Regions from separate parts of the Homo sapiens genome. Here regions 2, 3, 4 and 5 are each reported to be linked to region 1. Evidence: microRNA targets listed by miRTarBase, many of them from high-throughput screens and not tested one by one. Region 1 holds a microRNA gene; each other region holds the end of a gene's coding sequence.

The links. Region 1 holds the annotated microRNA hsa-miR-4291 (UUCAGCAGGAACAGCU, at 2,319-2,334, shown strand). A microRNA usually pairs through its seed, bases 2 to 8, with sites in the 3' UTR of a target mRNA and lowers its output. Matches are read on the target gene's strand: a 7mer-m8 pairs with bases 2 to 8, a 7mer-A1 pairs with bases 2 to 7 and ends in A, and an 8mer does both.
Region 2: miRTarBase lists PHLPP2 as a target of hsa-miR-4291. Seed matches in the 3' UTR shown: 7mer-m8 at 2,441-2,447 and 7mer-m8 at 221-227.
Region 3: the mRNA of MAML1 is a reported target of hsa-miR-4291. Seed matches in the 3' UTR shown: 7mer-A1 at 2,131-2,137.
Region 4: miRTarBase lists MIEF2 as a target of hsa-miR-4291. Seed matches in the 3' UTR shown: 7mer-m8 at 1,127-1,133.
Region 5: miRTarBase lists DISC1 as a target of hsa-miR-4291. Seed matches in the 3' UTR shown: 7mer-A1 at 995-1,001.

The regions. Positions count from the first base shown.
Region 1 is chr9:93,817,049-93,820,642 of GRCh38, forward strand. MIR4291 (microRNA 4291) reads left to right here and starts at 2,309; the gene lies at 2,309-2,373. The region is part of intron 1 of LOC101928014 (a long non-coding RNA gene); the gene reads left to right.
Region 2 is chr16:71,645,743-71,649,336 of GRCh38, forward strand. PHLPP2 (PH domain and leucine rich repeat protein phosphatase 2) reads right to left here. Exons shown (of 19, transcript NM_015020.3): 19 at 1-3,594. The coding sequence ends at 3,148. Among named protein-coding and RNA genes, the nearest start is that of MARVELD3, 21 kb to the left of the region's middle.
Region 3 is chr5:179,774,081-179,777,674 of GRCh38, forward strand. It overlaps MAML1 (mastermind like transcriptional coactivator 1), which reads left to right. Exons shown (of 5, transcript NM_014757.5): 5 at 1-3,203. The coding sequence ends at 797. Among named protein-coding and RNA genes, the nearest start is that of LTC4S, 18 kb to the right of the region's middle.
Region 4 is chr17:18,264,016-18,267,609 of GRCh38, forward strand. It overlaps MIEF2 (mitochondrial elongation factor 2), which reads left to right. Exons shown (of 4, transcript NM_139162.4): 4 at 1-2,537. The coding sequence ends at 749. Among named protein-coding and RNA genes, the nearest start is that of MIEF2, 5.2 kb to the left of the region's middle. RefSeq lists an enhancer at 3,288-3,594.
Region 5 is chr1:232,036,044-232,039,637 of GRCh38, forward strand. DISC1 (DISC1 scaffold protein) reads left to right here. Exons shown (of 13, transcript NM_018662.3): 13 at 649-3,594. The coding sequence ends at 788. It overlaps TSNAX-DISC1 (TSNAX-DISC1 readthrough (NMD candidate)), which reads left to right. Exons shown (of 16, transcript NR_028393.1): 16 at 649-3,594. Among named protein-coding and RNA genes, the nearest start is that of DISC1-IT1, 110 kb to the left of the region's middle. RefSeq lists an enhancer at 1,965-2,511.

The sequences.
Region 1 (3,594 bases):
TATATGAGGGTTTCACCTTATCTGCATCCTCACCAATGCTTGTTATCATCTGTCTTTTTGATGTTAGCCATCCTCGTGGGTGTGAAGTGGTATCTCGGTGTGGACTTCATTTGCACAGTGGTATTGAGCATCTTTTCATGTGCTTATTGGCATTTGTATTGCCAATATTTGGAAAAATATTTGAATAAATATTTATTCAGATCCTTTGCCCACTGAAGAAAATTTGCCTTTACTGATGAGTTCTTCTTATATTCTGGACAAAAGACCTTTTTCAGATATATAGCTTGCAAATATTTTTTCCCACTCTGTGAGTTCTCTTTTTACCTTCCTGATGGTGTTCTTTGAGGCACAAAAGTTTTTAATTTTGATGAAGTCCAATATATCTGTTTTTTCTTTTGTTGCTTATGTTTCTGGTGTCATATCTAAGAATGCAAGTATACAAAGATTTACTTCTAGTTTTCTTCTAAGAGCTTTGTAGTTTTATCTCCTACATTTAGGTCTTTGATCCACTTTGAGATAACTTTTGCATATGGTGGGTTTGTATATTGTTCTTTGTAACAAATTTCTTTCTAAAGCTGACTACCTTAAAATGGCACTTTATGAGAAACAGTTGTGGTGTCTGGCTCATGTTGTTTTTATTAGTAACAATACTTGTTGGTTTTGGAAGGTGTCTCATCATAAGGAAATCAATGGCACACCCATCATTTCATTCCCCGCTCACCCAGCCCTATACATGTTAGTGACCCCACTTCATAGGTGGGGACATGGACACTTCTGAGGAGAAGGTAAAATCAAAGGGACAGAATGAGGTGAGCCTGTGTTCTTCCCTTAACCCTCCTGCCCTCCTCCCCAGGAAAAATGAGCTTTGCTATGAAGTGGGGTGACCTCCTTACTCACCAGATTCTTTCTTCCTCAGAAACCCCAATCTACTGACTTCTTTGGGCTGTTTGAGGTGTAGGTAGTGACTCTGGGCTAGATATTCTATGTTCTCTTTTTCCTACATCAACAGACTCATCTGTCAAAAGGAAGGAGGGAGGGAGGGGGAAGGAGTGAAGGGAAGGAGGGAAAGAGGGAAGGAAGGAAGGGAGGGAGGGAGGGAAAGAGGGAAGGAAGGAAGCAAGGAAGGAAGGGAGGAAGGAAGGGAGGGAGGAAAAGAGGGAAGGGAGGGAGGGAAGGAAGAGAAAGAGGGAGGGAAGGAAGGAAGGAAAGTGAAGGGGAAAAAAGGAAGGAAGGGAAAGAAGGAAGAAAGGAAGGAGGGAAGGAAAGGGATGGAAAGAAGGAAGGAAGGAAGGAGGGAAGGAAGGGAAAAAGGGATGAAAGGAAGGAAGGGAGGGAGGGAAGGAAATAGGGAAGGAAGGGAGGGAGGGAAGGAAGGAAGGGAAAGAAGGAAGGAAGGAAGGAAGGGAAGAGGGAAGGAAGAAAAAAGGAAAGAAGGAAGGGAAAGAGGGAGGGAGGAAGGAAATGAAAAGAGGGAAGGAAGAGAAAAGGAAGGAATGAAGGGAAAGAGGGAAGGAAAGAAGGAAAGAGGGAAGGAAGAAGGAAGGAAAAGGGAAAGAAGGGAAAGAGGGAAGAAAGGGAAAGAGGGAAGGAAGGAAGGAAGGAAGGAAGGAAGGAAGGAAGGAAGGAAGGAAGGGATGGAGGGAGGGAGGGGAGGTCATTTCCTAGAGGAAGTAAAAGTGCAGCTCCTCTCTGGTCTCCCCTGAGTAGAACATGAGAACATGACTAAACCAAAAATCAGGTATGTCTCTAGAGAGAGCTCGTACATCCAGGCGGACAAGCCTTCCATTACTAAAAGTGCCAGAGACAAGCCAAGGCCTGCGTGTGTGCACAGGAGACTAGAGGGCCCTCTGAGCCCTGGCTGGAGGGGGGACCAGGTTCAAGCCCATCTTCTGCTCACAGCCTGGGTGATCCTGGCAGCCACGTGCCCTCCTTGCTGGGGCTCAGGTGCCTCATCTGTCAAGTGCCGGTGGCTGGGACAGGACCCCTCAGCCTGATAGGCTAAGACTCTAAGTGCTGCTGGAGTTAAGACGGCAACGCAATCTCCAAGCCTGTCAGGGACCCCTGGTAGCTGGGTGAGTGATGGTCCCGGGGGATTGACCAGCTGTTTGGGTGTCCCATAAACACAGCCTTAAAGTGGCTGGTTCCGCCCATCCATCTTGCCCTTGGGGCCGCGCCCTGGCGGCTTTCAGAGTGGCCCTAGTTGACATCGGTGTTGGCCCCTTCCGGGTGGCGCTGGGCCGTTGATGGGCTCTGTGATGGATGGGTCTCCACTGTGGAGGTGCCACAGCTCAGGACGCCCTGAGGGTGACGCCGGGGGCTTCAGCAGGAACAGCTGGGTGGAGGCAGAGCTGTTCTGCTGTGGCTGCAGCCCTGAACTGTGGGATTCAGAGCTGAGAGTGAGGTAATGAAGCCAAGTGCTTCCAGGGTCTACAGATGGAGGTGACCCAGACACACTGTACAATAGACTCTCTGGAGTTTCCTTAGTTCCACAGAAACCTGCTCCCTCCCCTATGGCTGTAGCCTTTTTGTGTCTCTCCTGGTTTCAGATAGAACACCAGCCCCACCAAGCACAGGGCTTCCCTTGGGGCAGTAGAAAGTGGCAATACTATGGCCAGCCAGGCCACTCAGGGGTCTGAATTCAGAACGGCTGTTTTTTCTGATTTCTCCAGGGACCCCTGTACAAACCAAAGTTATCTCTCTGCAACCTCCAGGTCTGACCACGGATAACTGGCTGATTCCTCCTTCTGGCATTCAGGGTTGTACCCCTGTGTTCTGAACTGAGGGCTGGAGAGAGAAATAATGAACTCACCAAGCTCTACTGACTGCCTGCTGCTGGCCGCACATCACAGCCCTTGGATAGCACCATGGCCTGACTTTATGTAGAGCCGCTGACATCCCTAAGGCACTCAGGGCAAGACTGAAACATGCTGAGGCCATGCCCCATGGTGTTAGAAGGGATGATGTGAGCAGCCTGTCTTCTGCTCATTCCTGCAACACGCCTTAGGGTCTCTCAGGGGCATTGTTCATGATGGGAAGCTCGGAGGGCCTGGCCACAGACAGAGGTGACCCACAGTCACTGAGTTGGAGGGGTGGCCCCCAAGCTGGTGGGGAGAGGTAGAGAACTGGTGGAGATGGCTAAGATGATTCCTCATTTCCCCCGAATGGCCCTAGTTTTACTGCCCTTCCCACTACCTGCTTTCTCCAAACACACGCTCCCTCTCTGACCTGGCTGTCCCCCACCATTCTCACTAGAAATGTAGACTCTGGGAGAAAGGAAGGGCCCTTGGATCCCAGGAAGTTCCTTTACAGCTTCCCTAGATGTTGGGCATCTGCTGCTCTACTTGCATGCCCTGCATGACGGGGAGCTCCTCACCCGTCAAGCAGCCCTCCCCATTTTTGTGTCCTTACTGCTGATCTCTGCCATGCCCCCACCCCTCCTGGGGACGCAGCTCTGCTCTCCTAGCCCTAGGACTCCATCAGCTCTTCCTGCCCCAGGACTGGCCCTCAGAGGTGGGGGACAGTGAGTAGATTTCACTACTTTCTACTTAGGCTGTTAGTTGAGTCTAGCAGCCCCAGCTCCCCAGGGGATGGGGT
Region 2 (3,594 bases), not on the chromosome of region 1:
CACCAATGTATTGCACACATACACTTCACAGTAGTACAATAAAGCCCTGTATCAGGAGTGGTAATTCAATGACTTGACTCTATAGTGCACTGCAGCTTTATGTCATACCAACATTCAAATATTCAAATATCCTTCCAATCCATTTGGACAAAAATACACCATGGCTGCCAAGACACATGTATTTTTCTTTCTTCCATGGACTCCTAAACTGCTCCCACAATCAGCAGTGTTCTTCTCTCAGAAATTATCTTAAGCTTCTCTACTCAATGGGAGGTACACACAGAGACCTGAGAATATGCAGAGGCCAGAATCTCTGTCTGTGCTAGAGATCAACTGTACTCTGCCCACCTGGGGAACACATCCTCTGGGTAAAGTACTCGGAAGTAAATTACATTCACCTGGAGACAGATACGGGCTTTCACTGACAGCCTGTTTAGAAAACACAATGTCTGTAAGTTACCTCATAGGTCAAAGAGTTTTGTATTATATTTTTCATAATGGGCTATGGCCTTTTTACCCTGTTTTAATACAGAGCAACTGCAGAAGGACATGAATTAAAGCAGACTGCAAAAAAGAATAATCAGTTTTGGTATCGCCTATAACAAAGATTTTCAATACAACCTAATGGTTCCTGAAAAAAAATTCTACCACACAGAACAACATTTGGAATTACAGAGTTCTGCTGACTAAAAAATAAATACATTTACTTTTGGTAAGGTCATTTCAGAACTGGGTTTTGAGGTGGTTCCAATAAGTAGGTTGGGAAACGAATAGCAGACAAGAAGGGTTCACCATAATGAATAATTTTTATAAGACTATACTATTAAAGTGGTGTATTCCCAAAATAACTTTAATTTTTAGACATCACTATTCTACAACCCGAAGGTTCTGCCATCTAAGTAAGATGTTTTACATCACTCATCACTATCATCCTGTTATTTCATTTTCATTTTTTCTTCATTAAAAAAAATTTCCCATATAAAAATAAGGTGGCAAAACACTCTTGTTCCCATCTTTCTAACAGCACCTAAACTCTGTGTGAGCCACTATGTTCCCTACTTCAAATCAAAGACCTGAGTTCTAAAATTCTCAATAGCTGACCAGTAGTTTGACAATCTGGGGACTCAAGTTCAGATTCTCGAGGGGTTGAACATTAGACATCCATTAGAGTGTACCAAATCCCCCAAGAGTGTATCCCAATGACACGTGCATATGAGCATGGGGCCTCTGAGAAGATGAAGACACATAATTATTATGGACAGGTCATCTGATTTTGACTATTGCTTTGAACAAAAATCTTCCCAAAAATACACACGAAAATATATTTATATTTAACCCTCTCTTTAACATAGTTTCTGATGAAACAAATTAAAAATGGCCCTACTTTATTTTTAATTGTAAAAGTGTTCCAAAAATTCAAAGCACATTCCCCATTGGGTAAAATCAAGCAATGCCAACATTTTGTGGGAATAAATAGGAATTAATTTTCCTAAGCAAATCTTCCAATGGAAAAAGTGACAGAAGTATGAAGAAACTGCATTTTGCTAGGGTTATGTGGAATGTGCAAAGAGTATAGGTTTTCTGTAAGCTTAAGAATTTCTCAATGAAGTGTCTTTCTTATGTTAGTATTGAGCCCAGTATTCTGAAACCACATAAAGTGAATATGCAGTTTTCAGAAGAGTACACTGTTCAACATTCAAGAGGCGAGCTCTCAACTCACCTCCAACATTCTAGAGAACCATCCCTCTCCTCCAGCATAGGAGAAGGAACAAGTCTAACCTGAGTGCTCCATCCATCTGTTCTCATTGGCCTCAGTCCGTTTCAGAGTCATCTGCCATAACTTAAGGTCACGTGGATGCAAGCAGTGTCAGCCTTGGGCCCCCGCTCCCCGCCCTTAGGAAGCTGTCTGCCAATTCCTCCACATGCTAGGGAAAGACGCCAATCCCTAAATTTCCCTGGGAAATACCTAGCAGGTATCATATTTGTCAAGGGGTAATTCTCTTTTTCTGATCTAGGGAGAAGTAGTCTAGGTCCTCACGCCTTCCCCATTTTCATCCCCAAAAGAAGATCCTATTACCCCAAGTTTCTCAGGAGCTTTCACAGTCTGACATCCAAAAGTTAAATCAACTTCACAGGGCCCTTCCTATACCCTCGAATAAGTCTCCAACACCCAGTTCTCTCTCTGCCTATGGATGAAGGTGCCGGGCTGCCTCTAAGAAGATTGGCTCGAGTGCAGATTCAAAAATAAAAAGTTCACAGTCAATGAAAAGTGCTCTCATTACATTACATACATAAATTATCTGTTTGATTGGTTCTACATTTCCAACAGACATCATTTTGATAGGCTGTATTCTCGTAGAGAAGAATGAAAAGCCATGTGACTAGTCACATCACACCCCATTAGTCTGAGATAAGGTGATTTCTCTGTCACAGAGATCCATCAGCAGCAACTAGTAAAGAGAATCAATCTTCACTTTTTTCCTCCACAGAAATAGTCCCTTTCCTGCCCAGGCAGGCAAATTCTCAAAATGATCCTAGGAGAGAAAGGGTTAATGGCAGGTGGTAGGACTGATACAGAACAGCTGCTTTCTTCCCAGTACCCCTGGGAATTCCAATGCAGGTTAAATGTGAAACTTAACACTGATAGTGGCTACCAGTTTATCCAGAGCCAGCCCCTGATGGCTCTCACACTTTTTGGCTCCGAGTTCAACCCCACACAGCTATGGTTTAGAAATGTAGACGCAGGGCTGGGCATGGTGGCTGAGGCCTGTAATCACAGCACTTTGGGAGGCAGAGGAGGGTGGATCACCTGAGGTCAAGAGTTCAACACCAGCCTGGCCAACATGGTGAAACCCCGTCTCTAAAAAAAAAAAATAAAACTTAGCCGGGCATAATGGCAGGTGCCTGTAATCCCAGCTACTCGGGAGGCTGAGACAGGAGAATGGCTTGAACCCAGGGACAGAGGCTGCAGTGACCCGAGACCCCACCATTGCACTCCAGCCTGAGCGACTGAGCAAGACTCCGTCTCAAAACAAACAAACAAAAAAAAAACGAACAAACAAAAAGAAATGTAGAGGCAGAATGCCTCTAGCAAGTCCCTACCCCAACCCTGCACAGCCTCCTCCCACACTGTGCCCAGTGGGGCAGTCATAGTGCTGTGTCGAACTCCTCCGGGGGCTCGGTCCGATCCTCTTCATGGGGCTCAGGCTCGAGCCGGCTGTCCTGGTGCTGTTTCATTTGTTCCTTCACTTCTTCTTCCAGGTCATGAGGCACAACAAACTGGTCCTCTGGTTCCATCTGAGTGGGGGCAGCAAAATAGCCAGTTTTCCTCTTGGGCACTTCTGTGGCCACTTCAATGAGGTTCAGGCTGTCCTCTAGGGGCACAATAGAGCCATTGGAGAGTTTCTTCCCATAGAGGCAGGAGGTGGAGGGAGACTTCTGTAACTCCATCCTGTCCTTGCTCATTGGCAGGAGCATGCCACTATTCACACTGTTCTGTCTTCGGATCCCAAAACACGACCCTCTAGCATGTTCCTCAGAACACAGGGTAGGAGAACTCTCTATGAGAGGGGGTGAGTTCTCCAGATCCCTCCC
Region 3 (3,594 bases), not on the chromosome of region 1:
CTCAGAGCAGCCTCTATGGCATGGCTTCTGGCATAACCCAGATAGTTGCCCAGCCCCCGCCACAGGCCACCAATGGACATGCCCACATTCCACGGCAGACCAACGTGGGCCAGAACACCTCCGTCTCAGCTGCCTATGGGCAGAACTCTCTGGGAAGCTCTGGCCTCTCCCAGCAGCACAATAAGGGGACCCTGAACCCTGGTTTAACAAAGCCACCGGTCCCAAGGGTGTCACCAGCCATGGGAGGCCAGAATTCCTCCTGGCAGCATCAGGGAATGCCGAACCTCAGTGGCCAGACCCCAGGGAACAGCAACGTGAGTCCCTTCACTGCAGCCTCCAGTTTCCACATGCAGCAGCAGGCCCACCTGAAAATGTCTAGCCCGCAATTCTCCCAGGCAGTGCCCAACAGGCCCATGGCTCCCATGAGCTCAGCAGCTGCCGTGGGGTCCTTGCTACCCCCAGTGAGTGCACAGCAGAGGACCAGCGCCCCTGCCCCAGCACCACCCCCAACAGCCCCTCAGCAGGGCTTGCCTGGCCTGAGCCCAGCAGGGCCTGAGCTGGGGGCCTTCAGCCAGAGCCCTGCCTCACAGATGGGCGGTCGGGCGGGGCTGCACTGCACCCAGGCCTACCCTGTGCGGACCGCGGGCCAGGAGCTGCCTTTTGCCTATAGCGGGCAGCCAGGTGGCAGTGGGCTCTCTAGTGTGGCTGGACACACCGATCTGATCGACTCCCTGCTGAAGAACAGGACTTCAGAGGAGTGGATGAGTGATTTGGACGACCTGTTAGGGTCTCAGTAATGGAAGGATTTGTAGTGTTTTTAGTGTTCATTCATCCTATATTTTTATTCTCAGATTCAAAGAAAGAGCAACTACTTTGGACCAAAAGCCCATGGCCTGGGGAGCTGGGCAGGTAGAGCCCAAGCTCCAGGTGAGGCCTGGCCCTGGGCAGGGTCTGTGGCTGCGCCCCTCAGGCCAGCAGTTGAGGTCCATCGGGCTGGCCCCAGCCCATCTGCTGGCATCAGTACCTGGTGTTGGGACAGCAGGATAGGGTTCTAAAGGTGGTTTTCTATCCAAACGACCAAAAAACCAACAGTAACACCAGTGAAACCCCACACTGTCGGGCTTATAAAAATCTGTGCCATCATGGTGATTTTATCCAAGACTGCTCCACTTACCCCAGTGCTGGGGACAAGTTTCTGTTGAAACTTTAGATAGCAGAATTATTTGCAATTTGTAGCATAGAAAAGATTTTTAAATTTTTTTACAAAAGGTTTTTAAACAGATTAGGGTAGGTGATGGTTTAAATCAATTAAGTGGCATTGGAAACCTAGGGTTTCCTTTTGATTAAGAGCCTTTTTTGTTTCTGCTCTTTGTCAGCTTTCAGGGGAGAAGGAGGCCACTGGAAAATTATTTCCCTAAGTGCAGGCTGTTGACTGCGTATGCCAAAAAGGGACAGGAGGCATGGGATAGCAGGTCTGGTGACACAGCTAGGGTCTTCCTAGCAGCTCCTCCTCCTCCCTCCCAAGGCCCCCAGGAATCCCTTCCTCCCATGTCCTGGCAGCAGGACCCCAGGCTACATATGGAAGGTAGAGATGTGGGGGTCCTGTATCCTGGAGTATTATGTCTCCCCACCTTCTGCAGTTTTCTCTGAACATGTATGTTGCCCATGGTGGGAGCGTGGTCACTGTGCAGTTGTGCACAGATGTCTTTCCTTTACCGTTGGCCTTTCTGTCTGCCTCTCCTTCCTCTCTGCAGCCCAAATGGAAAACAATTATTTACTCCATTGGAGGGAAAGGAAGAGTCTTAGAATTCCTAAGGGAACCTTAGCATAAAGGTTTTGGGGAAGGAGGCCGTAGGCCGGCCCGGAGGAAGCAATTCCACTTGGTTTGACAACTTCTGCCACTCCCATGTCAGATGACTTGCACTTCTTAAAGAGATTGCTTTATAACACTAAGACATCCTTTCTAAAGATTCAAGTGGACTTGACTAAGCTGAGGGTCCACGAAATAGAATATGACATGTGAGCTGTTTTTGGAAAACGAAGATGGAGAGAGCACTTCCCCGTAACGAAAGCAAAGTGGTAAGCACAGGGTGAGACCCTTTTACACAGAATGGTGGAGAGAAAAGAGAATGCTGAAAAGTGGCTCAGATGCAGAGTGTTCTGTGGAGAAACTGCAGCCCCACTTCTGTTTCCCTGGAGTCTCCCAATGGATCATTCAGGAGTGTCCTATGTGAGAATTGAGCCAAGGAAAATACTCATGCAACCAGCCTGAGTCGCGGTGAGGGGACGAGAGGTTGTACACACATTGGTAGTTATTTTGCACCAGCAGTGCCTTTCTCACTGGGGGTACTTGGACCCTCAGATCTTCTTTTCTAATAGCCATTTGCCACCCCAAGTGGTATGTCGGCCATTTCTCCTTAAAACACCTTCCCTACCTTTCCCATGTACTCAGTTTAGCTCTCAAAGAAGGGGTGAATCATAAAGCCAGTGAAAATTTCACCCTCTGAGGGAGTTCCCCAATCTGAAGGGGAAGAGGGTGACCTCAGCGGCTTTTCTCCCAAAAATCGGCTGAAGGCTGGTTGTGGATCCTTGTTCCTCTCCTGACCCCATCTGGCTGCTGCCCCGTCTCCCACCCCTGTCCCCGGGGCTCGCTGGCCCTGCACTCCGCCTTAGTCCTGGGGCCGGCGACACAGTGGGGGCTCCTCACTTGCTGCAGTGTCATAGCAATAAAATGTGATTCTTGGGGTCCCCCCAGGGAGCTGCCCATGGCTTTATTTATGAACCTGGTTTTCGGGAGTCAGGGGAGGAGATGACTTTGCTTCTGTGCACAGCCCCGTCTTCCAGGAGCCACAACTCAGAAGAAAAGGGTGCTCAGACTTTTGTTATACACATTTGCTTTGTGTAAATAAATGTTTACAATTTTATATGAAAGATGGAATAAGCGCTAGAGCTTCCAACTGTATATTTTTTACTTTTATAGATTTTAAAACTATGATCCTTTATATGTGTGTTTTGGGGGAGCTATGATAAGTTTTATGGCAAACGGTTGGTATTGTTAACTTTTTATTGTCATCAAAAGTTCATAAAAGTCCTATTAATCCCCATATTCTTCTACTGCCCTTAACTCTGGTATACACCAAAAAGAAATCTTTACTTTCCTTGTTTTATCATTATAAAAATAAAGTATTTTGCTAGTATGGAAACAACCTTTGTATTTGACGTCACCTGGGGTCTGCTGGCAGAAGTTTGGGGATTGGTTTTCTTTTGTAATTTAGCTGCTTGCTTTTCTTGGTTTTTTAATTTTTTCTTTTTAAAGAAATGCTTGTCGAGTCATAGATTTAGCTGCTTTCTTATTGCACATTGTTGGGTGGGAGCTGGTTTGGTTGAAGCCTCAGAGGAGCTTCTGTTATCTGCTGATAGATACTAAATTAGAGCTAGCATCACCCTGAGAAAGCAGGCTGGCCCCAGGACTCACGGGCGTCCATGCAGCTGATGGAGGGGAGCTGGACCGGACGACTGTGCTCTCTTAGCTCTAGCATCACCCTGAGAAAGCAGCCTGTCTCCGGGACTCACGGGCATCCATGCGGCTGATGG
Region 4 (3,594 bases), not on the chromosome of region 1:
TGTGGAGCCTGGTGCCGGGCGTGGACACTGTGGCGAGGGACCCTCGCTGCTGGGCCGTGCGCAGGACGCAGCTTGAGTTCTGCCCCCGTGGGAGCAGCCCCTGGGACCGCTTCCTGGTCGGGGGCTACCTCTCCTCCCGCGTCCTGCTGGAGCTACTCCGCAAGGCGCTGGCTGCTTCTGTCAACTGGCCGGCCATTGGCAGCCTTCTCGGGTGCCTGATCCGGCCCAGCATGGCCTCGGAGGAGCTGCTGCTCGAGGTGCAGCACGAACGCCTGGAGCTCACTGTGGCTGTGCTTGTGGCAGTCCCTGGGGTCGATGCTGACGACCGCCTCCTCTTGGCCTGGCCCCTGGAGGGGCTGGCGGGGAACCTCTGGCTGCAGGACCTGTATCCAGTGGAGGCTGCTAGGCTGCGAGCCCTGGACGACCATGACGCTGGGACTCGCCGGCGGCTGCTGCTGCTGCTGTGTGCTGTCTGCCGTGGTTGCTCGGCTCTGGGGCAGCTAGGCCGGGGTCACCTGACCCAGGTGGTCCTGCGTCTGGGGGAGGACAACGTGGATTGGACGGAGGAGGCCTTGGGTGAGCGCTTCCTGCAAGCCCTGGAGCTGCTCATCGGCAGCCTGGAGCAGGCCAGCCTGCCCTGCCACTTCAACCCCAGCGTGAACCTCTTCAGCAGCTTGCGTGAGGAGGAGATTGACGACATTGGCTATGCGCTATACAGTGGCCTACAGGAGCCCGAGGGGCTGCTCTAGGTGGGTGGAAACGGGTGGTTGCCATGTTTTCTAATGCTGGGGAGCTGCACCCACCTCCCTTCCAGGGATTTGAATAGTGGTTTTTCTCTAGCTTTTTGCCAGAACAAAGGAGGGTACATTACTTAAACCCAGGGCATCAGGATGTGCTTGGGCTATGGTGGCCATAAACCCTGAGCCCAGAGAGCTTGGGTCACTGTCACCTGAGTGCAGCTGGGCTGCCTCAGGCAGCTTGGAGTGCCAGCCATTCCTGCAAGCACCGTTTCAGCTCTTGGGGCCAACCCCAGGACCTTTGGCTCTGTCCATCACCAGCAACCAATCCACCAACAGAATGTGGTTTCTGCCATCCTGGGCAGAAGCTGAAGGCCAGCTTCACATTTCTGCTGAGAGAAGGTGACTTAACGCCTTTTCCGGCCCTAGCTCCAGGCGTTTTGAGGCGTCTGGTGCCTGATGGTAGGTATGGTGTGTTTGTTCTGTCCCCCAGGGGCTGGAGTCACCTGGTGCCCCTGAAGGACAGATTTTTGGCTGTTAAAGGATGGCATTTTCCTGCTGTCTTCTGTGCGTTTAGTTTTCTTGCTGAGCGGGAGCTCAGTATGACTTGCCACCCACCTGATACCTCAGGGCAAGGCCCTTTTTCCCTCCAGCCAGGTGAGTGTTTTCTTCAGGCAGCTGAGGGTCCTGGGGGAGCTGAGGCTCTGTGCTGCACCCCCAGCCCACAGCTGGGGCATCTCACTGGAGCTGTTCCAGGCCCCACTGGAGAGCAGAGGACCTGATCCCCCACTAGAGAGGTCCGGTGTGCACAGCCGGCCTCCCAGTGTGCCAAAATGAACTGCTCTCAGCTGATGGCTGTATTCTGACTTTGAAGCCTGTTAAGAGGTAGCAAGGGGGCTAGAGGAGGGAGATTCCACCTCCCCTCCCAAGTGACCCTCCTCCTGCCTCTGGTATCCTTCCTTTTGAAACGAAGCTCAGCTTCGAAGATGTGAACAAGAATAAAAGGAAAAAATTCTAATGTATATATAACTCAGGCTGGATAAGGGAGTCTTGGTGCTTTCATACGCAGCTGTTGAGGGTTTTCTGTAAGTCCTGTGGCTTGTCCTGGCACTTTGGCAAGAGTGCTTGAGGTCAATTGGAGGTGGTAGAGTTTACTTTAAAAAGTAGCATCTTGGCCGGGTGTGGTGGCTCGCATCTGTAATCCCAGCACATCGGGAGGCCGAGGCGGGCGGATCACGAGGTCAAGAGATCGAGACCATCCTGACCAACATGATGAAACCCCAACTCTACTAAAAAGACAAAAATTAGCTGGGCGTGGTGGCACGCACCTATAGTCCCAGCTACTCGGGAGGCCGAGGCAGGAGAATTGCTTGAACCCGGGAGGTAGAGGTTGCAATGAGCTGAAATTGCACCACTGCACTCCAGACTGGCGACAGAGCAAGACTCTGTCTCAAAAAAATAAATAAATAAGCATCTTGGCCCCGCGCTGTGGCTCACGCCTATAATCCCAGCACTTTGGGAAGCCGAGGCCGGTAGATCACCTGAGGTTGGGAATTCAAGACCAGGCTGACCAACGTGGAGAAACTCCATCTCTGGTAAAAATTCAAAAAAATTAGCTGGGCATGGTGGCACATGCCTGTAATCCCAGCTACTTGGGAGGCTGAGGCAGGAGAATTGCTTGAACCCGGGAGGCGGAGGTTGTGGTGAGCTGAGATCGTGCCAGTGCACTCCAGCCTAGGCAACAAGAGTGAAACTCTGTCTCAAAATAAAATAAAATAAAATAATAATAGTAATAATAAATTAGCATCTCAGTCTGTTTGGGCTGTGATAACAAAATGCCATAGACTAGGTGGCTTATAAACATCAGAAATTTATGTCTTACCATTTTGGAGGCTAGAAATCCAAGAGTGAGTCACAGATTCCATGTTTGGTTGAGAGCCCACATCCTGGTTCATAGGTGTCCCCATCTAGCTGTCCTCATGTGGAGGAAGGGGGGAAATGCTCTCCTAGGGTCTCTTATAAGGAAACTAAGCCCACCCATGGGGTGGGGGCCCACATTCATGATCGAATCACTTCCCAAAGACCCCATCTCCTGTTAGCAGTGCCTTGGGGGTTAGGATTTCAGCATACAAGTTGAAGGGGACACAGACTTTCTGTCCGTGACAAGTAAGGTAAGTGGAAGGAAAAGATGAAAAGCTTGGTGTTGCTTTAGTAATGGGAACCAGCCAGTTTGGGATGTTTCTTCCCGCAAGGCTGAACTGCTGAGCCCTGCACCATACTTTCTGTAATTAGTGGGCTGTTGACAGCCCTTCAGCCATGCTCATCATTTTTTAGAAACCTGTGTTTTTTTTCTTTTGAGAGTGAGTATCACTCTGTCGCCCAGGCTGGAGTGCAGTGGTGCGATCTCGGCTCACTGCAACCTCTGCCTCCCGGGTTAAAGCAATTCTTCTGCCTCAGCCTCCCGAGTAGCTGGGACTACAAGTGCGCGCTACCACGCTCGGCTAATTTTTGTATTTTTAGTAGAGATGGATTTTCACCATGTTGGCCAGGATGGTCTTGATCTCTTGACCTTGTGATCTGCCTGCCTTGGCCTCCCAAAGTGCTGGGATTACAGGCATGGGCCACCGCACCCGGCCAGAAATGTGTGTTCTCTACCTCCCTTGCACCTCTTTGTGGCTGCACAAGTGGGGAGGAAACTTGCCCCGCCTTGTGCAGGTGAGAGGCCAGGGCATCTTAACCCTCTCACCCGCAAGAGCCAAAGCCAGGGCTCACTTCCTATCACCAGATGACACATGTGGGCTGGGGAGGGCTCTGGTCTGCGTGCAGGGCTGCTTCCAGCCTAGCTGTGCCACTCGCA
Region 5 (3,594 bases), not on the chromosome of region 1:
ATGGACTCTATCAAGTCTTGAGTGCCCTTCCTAGTTCCTGGGAATATACTAACAGATAACAGCAGGTTAGAGCCTGGAGAGGTTTCAAAGTCATCATTTCAAGAGAAAACTGAGGCTTTAACTGGTTTGCATAGGGTGACAAGGCTGGTTAATGGTGAACAGAGACCATGTTAATAACTGAGTCTGCTCCAGTATGCCTCTCCCTACTTATGGCAACCCCAAATCCTGTATTTCTCAAGGAGATTTTGATTTCAAGCATTCTACCCTTTCCACTGTCAAGAGTATTTGCATCTGACAGTTGCCCCACCCCAACTTGGGGCTTAGCCGGAGTTATGGTCACGCCAACTGCATATCATTGAGCATCTGAGTTGACCATCTGTCTCTGCTAAGAGCTGACTCTTCCATTTCCTTTTTAAGACCTGACTTGAGAGAGTCAATACCTCAGGCATTGTAGAAATTGCGGTCATTCTAAAATATAAAAGTGTAAAGTTTATATTAATATTTAATTCATACAATTGGAAAGAACTTTAAACTGCAATTAGGTGTCAGTACCCATCTGCTTCCAGCAGGCTCACACGCTCTTCGATCCCTCGGAGGCCGCAGAGGGCCACGATCACCTTCGAATGTGCTCCTTAACAATGTGCCCACAGTCTCTCAGGAGGGAGCTCCAGATGGTGAAGGAAACTCTGCAGGCCATGATCCTGCAGCTCCAGCCAGCAAAGGAGGCGGGAGAAAGAGAAGCTGCAGCTTCCTGCATGACAGCTGGTGTCCACGAAGCACAAGCCTGAGGAGTGACGGGATGGGGGAGGGAGGTGGGCCACCATGTTTGGACCCGGGGGGCTGCTCTTCCCTCCCCCGCCATAGCTAAGATGCCTGAATCAATTACGGAGATACAGAGCCTTGAGGTCTTTCAGTGGAAAGGTGGTTCATGTTCATTCTCATCAGTGTGAAACTGAGGAGTCTGCAATTTGGAATATGGAGAGAGAGACTGATTTGCTGAATTTCCTTCTAAATGTCACTCAAAAATTTCTTTTCCATGTCATTCTTGGGAATGTCTTCCACAGGATTTGAGAATAGTTTCATCTCAGCCCCCATTAGAGAGAAGTTGGGGTGAATTCTGGAAAAATGTCTCTTTTTCCTGTGCCATTTGCCTTCTGCTGCAACGAAAATATTTCCTGATTCAAGATTCTATAAAAAGGAAACCAAGCATAAGACTCTGTCATCATACCTGTTACACGTTCCTACAGGTGCACAATCTAAGAGAGCTAATTAACCTCAGAGTCTGGAGTTAACAGCTTTTCACCTTACTTCTCCTGTGATCTAATATTATCTTAGAAAAATTAATATGCAATTTCCAAAAGATATTTTGGTAAGACAACAACCTCCCAGTGATATGCCACCTTTCAATTTTCCTTTTGTGGCAATGATTGCATCTGAAGAAAGGATCCCTGAGAGTCTCTGTTTCATCAGGACATTCTGAAATTTACCCACAGTGAGGCTGTGGATGGATCAGGGGACCTGTATAAAATGTTTGAGCCTGTTCCATTTTCCCGTGGAACCTGTTTCACTCAATGCCAGGCAGTGCAGCATTTAGGAAAGCAGTGCAGTACTCAGTAAGGCAGTGCAGTACTCAGTAACACAATACAGTACTCAGGCAGTGCAGTACTCAGTAAGACAGTGCAGTGCTCAGTAAGGCAGTGCAATACTCAGTAACAGTGTAGTACTCAGTAACAGTGAAGTACTCAGTAATACAGTACAGTATTCAGTAAGGCAGTGAAGTACTCAGTAATACAATACAGTACTCAGTTAGGCAGTGCAGTACTCAGGAATGCAGCACAGTACTCAGGCAGTGCAATACTCAGTGCGGTACTCAGTAACACAGTGCAGTACTCAGTAACAGTGCAGTACTCAGTAACAGTGCAGTACTCAGTAAGGCAGTGCAGTACTCAGTAACACAGTGCAGTACTCAGTAATACAGTACAGTACTCAGTAAGGCAGTATGGTACTCAGTAAAGCAATGCAATGCTCAGTAACACAGTGCAGTGCTCAATAAGGCAGTGCAGTGCTCAGTAAGGCAGTGAATTGCTTAGTAACACAGTGTAGTGCTCAGTAGGACAGCATAGTACTCAGTAACACAGGGCAGCTAGTACTCAGTACTATAAGTACTGAGTACTTATATAGGCAATGTAGTACTCAGTAAATCAGTGCAGTACTCAGTAATGCAAGGGCATTTCAGGCTCCTGCTGGGCTGCTTCTTTGGCCCAGCTGGGACTCCTATTGAGACAGCTGCAAAACAGGCTGATTTCAATTAGGCAGCACTTCCCAAAGTGCACTGAGGAAGGTGGCCCCAAGAGAAGCTCTCTAAACAAAGGAGTACCCTCTCTGGTCAAGTACCTTTGGTAAATACACCATACCATAATATCTGCTTGGAGAACCACAATGCACATTAGCATATTAGTCTGAGAGAGAACTTATAGTAAGGAAACTCACTTGATTTTATCTAACCTCAAACTTTCCAAGTTTAATGGATCGTGAATTTTTTTCATGTAACTCCTATTCATATCCCATAGATCTAGTATTGTACAGCACTGCATTCTCTGAGGAAGTCCCAGTCCAAACTCTGATTTACATCACTTTAGAAACCACACTCACACTTTTGCAGAGTGTTGAGCTTAATAACTACCTGCCACAGATTGGTAAATTTAATCCAGTGGTTGTTCTGTTTGTGCTTCTGTTCTCATTTATGTGTTTAGGGATAGTGAGGTTCCTGCCTTCACTAGGATCCACGGATATGAGACCATTTTTGTCATTTCCTGAAGTCACACTGGCGTTTCCAGAAGGCATCTGGTGCTTTGCTCAGCCTTCCATGCTGTGCAGCACTTCTGTCCTCAGTCAAGGAGATGGCCATGCTTAAGCCAGCAATTGGCTGGGGTCCAGGAAACAAAGCAAAAGCACAATATGTGAATGTGCTGATTGTGTTCCCTATGGCTTTATCTCGAGCAAAATACACTCTACATATTTTAATAATAAGTATAATTAGCTTGTTCCTGGACTTCATTTTCAATGATGAACCAAATTCCTGAATTATTTATAATTGTGTCTAAAGAAAATTATGAACTGGTCACATGGCACTTGGAATCCTTGAGTTAATTCCAGTGAAGCAAAACTTGGGAAGAGTCAGGATTGGCCACATTGCCAATAACAAATTCCTACTTCGACATATGTCTTTTCAAAAAGCCTCCCAGACACAAGACATCTTAACCGTCACTAGCCCAAGTGTTTTGTATTACTCAGACACCATCATGAAATAATTCTGTGAGGTCATGATGTATTTGAAAATTCTGCAAGTTAATAACTGCCTTGAATTGTTTGAACCCGAAATAAGGGTTCTTTGGTACCTCTAGTAGATAGTGTGTTCATTTCCCTGCTGCAAATTTTGAAGTATTTGGGCAGGTGAGTCATGTTTTAACCACAAGCCATAACTCATCTGTTGTCTTTGCTTGGTCTTAGAGTATCATTCAGAAAGTCCGCTAAGGGCCAGCGTGCTTCTTCTGGCTACACAACCTTCTCAGGACAAGCCCACTGTCTTAAGCC